2 separate regions of the Homo sapiens genome follow, and region 2 is linked to region 1. Evidence: fine-mapped expression QTL. Tissue or cell type: prefrontal cortex. Region 1 holds a variant in brackets; the other region holds the start of a gene. All regions are shown on one strand. Distances are from middle to middle.

Evidence for each region. PIP is the estimated chance that this variant, and not a neighbour inherited with it, causes the effect.
Region 2: HOMER3-AS1 starts here. The variant in region 1 is fine-mapped to the expression of HOMER3-AS1 in prefrontal cortex (ROSMAP, PIP 0.95).

What each region holds. Positions count from the first base shown.
Region 1 is chr19:18,895,637-18,898,314 of GRCh38, forward strand. It overlaps CERS1 (ceramide synthase 1), which reads right to left and starts at 522. Exons shown (of 8, transcript NM_021267.5): 1 at 188-522. The coding sequence starts at 436. It overlaps GDF1 (growth differentiation factor 1), which reads right to left and starts at 522. Exons shown (of 8, transcript NM_001492.6): 1 at 188-522. The variant C/CG (reference allele first, on the strand shown) is at 1,288.
Region 2 is chr19:18,938,887-18,941,564 of GRCh38, forward strand. HOMER3-AS1 (HOMER3 antisense RNA 1) reads left to right here and starts at 1,368. Exons shown (of 3, transcript NR_134913.1): 1 at 1,368-1,738. HOMER3 (homer scaffold protein 3) reads right to left here and starts at 2,331. Exons shown (of 10, transcript NM_004838.4): 1 at 2,165-2,331; 2 at 83-163. The coding sequence starts at 96. RefSeq lists a silencer at 2,295-2,494.

The DNA of each region.
Region 1 (2,678 bases):
AGAGACCTTATCCTGGGGCTCCAACGTCCTGGGCCTCTCCAGCCCGAGGCCCCCACCCACGTTCCGGCGACCCCTTCATCCGCAGCAGCCAGCGCTGGAAGAAAGGAACGCGCCGGCGGCCCCAGGTCCCCGGTCCCGGCTTCCCCCAGTCCGGGGTCCCCTCGTCCCGGCCCCCGGCCACACTGACCCGAAAGAGGCGCGCAGTGGCCGCGGAGCGCAGGGCGGTCCAGCCCAGCGCGCCGAGCGCCAGCAGCAGCAGCTCGGGCGGCGCCAGGTGCGCGTGCTCAGCCAGGCCGCGACGCGCCAGCCCCCAGCCGCAGTCCGTGCAGCCCCGCGCCGCCGCCAGCGCGCTGCCCCAGCCGCGCTGCACTAGCTGCGCGTAGCTCGGCATGGGCTCGGGCCCCGTCGGCCCCGCCGCGGGCCCCGCCGCCGCCATACCGCCCGCTCGCCCGCCGTGCCCGTCGCCTGCGCCCGCCCGCGGTAGCCGACGGAGCCGCGCGCCCCGCGTCACGCGCCGCAGCTGGGCCGGGGGCGCGCGGGCGGGAGAGCGGAGGGCGGAGGGGCGGGACCGGCGCAAGCTCCGCCCCGCTGGGGGCGCGGCTGGGGGGCGGCCAGCGGGGACGCGGGGCGCCCTGGAGGCGGGCCCGCGCCCCTGCCCGTTTCCCAGCAGAGAAACCCAGGCGCGGGGGCCGGAGCTGGGGGCCCGTTGGACCTGGACCCCGAGAGACCCCGCGCACCGCCGTGTCGCGCCCCCATGCCTGCCCCGCGCGCCCCCCGCTCCCCCACCCCACCGCGCCGTGCCCGTGACGGGGGGCACGGGGGACACTAGCAGGCAGTCCCCTCGACTGGCGACCCCCGCTTCTCCCGGCCCTCCAGCACGCCACGCCGCTCCCGCTCCATCGCCCCGGCCCGCTCCGACCTCACCGTTCTTGGAGCCCTCGCTCCTTCTCAAGGACCCGAGGCCTGGCACGCCTTGGCACAGTCTTGGGACCATCCCGTGGCCCTCCCGCATTCAGGAGGCGTAGGCTCAATGAAACATTCTCATTCTTCAAAAGGACACGGCCCACGCCAGGGCGTTGGGAGGCGCACCTAGTGGAGACGCAGCTCTCTGCCCTACACCAGGAGCTTGGCAATGGGGTTCCAGCTTGGACGCGGGTACCCTGGGCACTTCCCAGGCATCTTCTTCTGCAGGTCTGCACAGCGGGCTACTGGGACAAAGGTGTGATGGGGGCTGCTGAGATTAGGGGGTTCTCTGAGGGTCACTTGCTGCTGTGACCCTGGGGAACC[C/CG]GGGGGGGGGGCTCCCCAACATCAGGTTAATACATGAGTTGCAGAGAGGCTGCAGGAGTGGGTGCCAACGTGGGAGGGACTCCCAATCTGGATCGACTGTGACATCATTGGGACCACCATAAGTGACTTTCCAATGCACTGTTCATTGACAAGGCCCTGTGCCCAAAGCCACTGAAGGCCATCGAGGAAGACACTGGTCACCTCTGTTAGGACCGCCATCTCCCCAGGCACTGCTGCACCCCCCCTCCATCCTAGCCCGCAGGATGTCCCCACACCTGGCCTTCAAGGTGCAGGATGCAGGGATGAGTCCTGCAGCAGCCGCGCTGGCTCCCGAACACCTGCACCTGAACTTCAGGGGCACAGGTGAACACACCTTCCCCTTGCCCCACACCGAGTCCCCCACAACACATCCAGGTGGCCCTGCATCTGGCCACTTCTCTGCATCTGCACAGCCTTGCCCCCCGCTCCCCGCCACCACCACCACTACCACCACTACCCTCTTCCGTCTGGTATCCTGGCTTCCTCCTCACCCCACAGAGGTGAGAAGGTGGCTGCGACGCTGTTGGCCTGTTCCTCGTCTGCTTGCAGCCCTCTATGGCTCCTGTTCCACTCAGGGAAAGCCCAAGTCCTCACTGGCTGCCCTCACAGCGCCCTGTTTCCCTCCGCCTGTGGGCTTTTCTGCTGTTCTTCCAACATGCCAAGCTCTGTCCTGCCTCAGGGCCTTTGCACTAGCTGTTCCCCCCTCCTGAAATGCTGTTCCCCTAGGTACCTGCATGGCTCTTCTGCCACCTGCTCAGGCTGCCCCCGACTCTGAAGTCACACGCCCCTCATGTCTTCATGTCTGCTTGGCACTTGTCACCATCTGCCCCTACATACATACAGCTCATTTTTTTTTTTGAGTTGGAGTCTTGCTCCGTTGCCCAGACTGGAGTGCAGTGGCGCAATCTCAGCTGACCGCAACCTCCGCCTCCCAGGTTCAAGGGATTCTCCTGCCTCAGTCTCCCGAGTAGCTGGGATTACAGGCGCCTGCTATCACACCCAGCTAATCTTTGTATTTTCTGTAGAGACAGGGTTTTGCCATATTGGCCGGGCTGGTCTCGAACTCCTGACCTCAAGTGATCTGCCTGTCTTGGCCTCCCAAAGTGCTGGGATTACAGGCATGAGCCACCGTGCCTGGCCCCACTCTTTATTCTTGAACGTGGACTCCATGTGGACTAGGGGCCTAGTGTAGGGGTGGGGCACGAGGCTTGGCCTGGCCAATAGTTCAGGTCCAGCCGGAGGCCAGAGATGTGACTAACGCCACAACCTGCCTGGCAGGCAGAGGGGGACGAGGGGGATATGCTCTCAAAGGTCCAGCCAGGCCTGTGGGGCAGCCGTGGACAGTCCCAGCC
Region 2 (2,678 bases), 43 kb after region 1:
GCGTGGGGAGAGGGTGTTTGGTGGGGGCCAGGCACCCCCACTTAGAAAGCTCAGGGCCAGGCTGGGGGAGGTGGGAGCTCACCTGGCTGTGGACATTGGTCAGGCTGGGATGGGCAGGCTCTAGGGGGCAGCCAGAGAGGTGGCAGGAGCACTGGTTTGGCCCCTAGGGAGAGAGGAGGGACTATGAGTGTCCCTCAGGCCAGGCTGAGGGAGGCCAAGCAGGTTCCATCTCAGGACCCATCACCAGGTGTGCCCGTCATGGAACTTTCAATCAAAAAGGCAGGAGAGGCCCAAAGTACACCTGGTGCTTTGGGAGGCTGAGTCAGGAGGATCCTTTGAGCCCAGGAGTTCGAGACCATCCTGAGCAACATGGCGAGACCCCATCTCTACCAAAAATTTAAACAATTAGCTGGGTGTGGTGGCATGTGCCTGCCGTCCCAGCTACTGGGGAGGCTGAGGTGGGAGGATCACTTGAGCCCAGGAGGTCAAGGCTGCAGTGCAGTGAGCTATGGTCAGGCCACTGCACTCCAGCCTGGACAAGAGAGTGAGACCCTGTCTCAAAAAAGAAAGAAATTATAAAAAGAAACAAAAAGGTAAGATAATTATTATAGATAACTCAGAGCAAGCAGACCCCATCTTTCTTTGTCTAGGGGAAGCCCCCACAACACCCTGTACAGGAGATGGCCCTCTGAGAGGAGCCTGGTGGCCGCTGACATCCAGATGTAAATTTCTCATTGTCCTGGTTATTGCACCCCCGTGAAGTCCCCTCCATCCCAGGCTGAGCTGTGGAGGCCAAATCTCTGCTGAGTTCTTTCCACCACATTCACCCATGACTGGCCAGAGCGGGGCTCTCCACCAAAAAATGGGGCGTTGAGAGGTGTGTAGTACCAGGAGACCAGTTCCCCACTACACCCTGCAGAGGGACCCCACCCCCAGCAGCTCCCACCCTAGGGCAGAAGCACACCTTGAAGTCCAGAGTCCAAATCCCCAGGGAGCCCCCAGCCAAGTTAAAAAGACAAGATGTAGACAAACAGCCAATCCCAATGCCCACCATGAGGGCAGAGCAGAATCCACACTGGGAGACCAGGGCTCCCCAACCTCCCCATTGGGCCATTCAGCAACCCCGAATCTGCAGGGGACCAAGGAGGAGTTTGGAGGAGGGGGAAGACAGGTGGGGGAGGGGAGGCCCTGGCCCAGCGGCCTCTGTGGTCAAAGGGGGGATGCCCCCCCTATCCTGTCCTGGGCAGCTGCTGTCCTGGTCACAGGGTCTGAAACCGGAGCCCCTGAGTGGGGGTGGGGCGGCAGCTCTGGCCTGGACTGGGGGCGGGTCCTGCGCCGGGTGGGAGTTGGGGAACACAGGGGTCCCCGGAACCCAGGCCCTTCCGGTCCGGCAGCTCCTGCTGCGACTTGCAGCGTTTGGGGAAAGTTACTCACCAACTAGTCATGCGCCTCGGATGCCGCCGGCCACGGGGCTCCCGGAGGGGGGTCCGACACCGCCCGGTGCCCGGGATCCCCAATCTGGCCGGTGGATGAGGCCCCATCCCATGCACCCGAGTGCGGGGGACGGGGGGGTTAATATTAATTCAGGATCCCATCCCCACCCGAGGCAGGACACCCAGTGCACGCCCCAACTCCGGGACGCGGGCTCTGACCCTGGAACTTCCGAGATTCCCGCGACGCCCCCTGTCTCTGGGTCCAGAACTTCGGGGGACACCTCTTCTGCCTCCTCCAACCCCAGGTCGGTAACTCCGGGGACTCCCTTCGTGACTCCTCCTCTAACTGGGTCCGGGACCCCGGTCCTCCGCGTTGTCCTAGACTCCTAAACTTCGAGGACCCCCTGCCACCCCTCCAGTCCCTGGGTCCGGGACGTCCGGACCCCTCCCACCCCAGTACCCCACCCCAGGTCCGCAGCTTTGGGGACCTCTTCGCAGCCTCCTCCAACGCCGGGTCCAGAACTTTGGGAACCTCCCACGCAGTCCCCTCTCAGACCCTGAATCCAGAACTTCGGGACCCCCGCGCTCCCTCCAGCCCTGGAACTTGGGGACCCCTCGCGCCGCTCCCAGTCCCGGGTCCGAAACTTCTGGGGAACCCCCACGCCCTCCCCTTGGCCCTGGGACTTCGAGGCCCCCGCGCTCCCAGCGCAGGCTCGGCAGGCCGGGCTCACCCTGCCAGGTCGGCGCCCCGCGAGTGTCCAGGCGCGAGTCGGGTGCGGCCCCCGCGGCGCTGACTCCGCGCTGCCGGGCGCCCCGCTCGCTCCCTGGCTCCCGGGCCCGCGCCCTCCGCGCCGCCCTCCACGCCGCCCGTGCCTTTGTCTGCGCCGCCGCCGCCCGCGCCGCCTCCGGTCCCATCGCGGCCGGTCCCGACGCGGCCGCCGCCCGCCCCGCCTCCCCGGGCCGCCAAGGCCGCCCCGCTGCGCCCCCTGCCGGCTTTTTGCACTGGGAGAGGGTATGGGGGAGGGGATAAGGGGGAGGGGCGGGGGCCGGGACTGGGGAAGGGACGGAGGATTGAGGGAGGGGGTTAGGGGCGGTGGAGGGGGAGTGGGGGGGGGGGTTGCGTGGGGTCGGGTTGGGAGCAGAGGGTGGGGACAGAGAGACAGACGGAGAGGGACATCTGGGATGAGAAAGAGACCCAGAAACAGAGACACGGGGGAGACAGGCGGAGAGATAGGAAGCAGATGG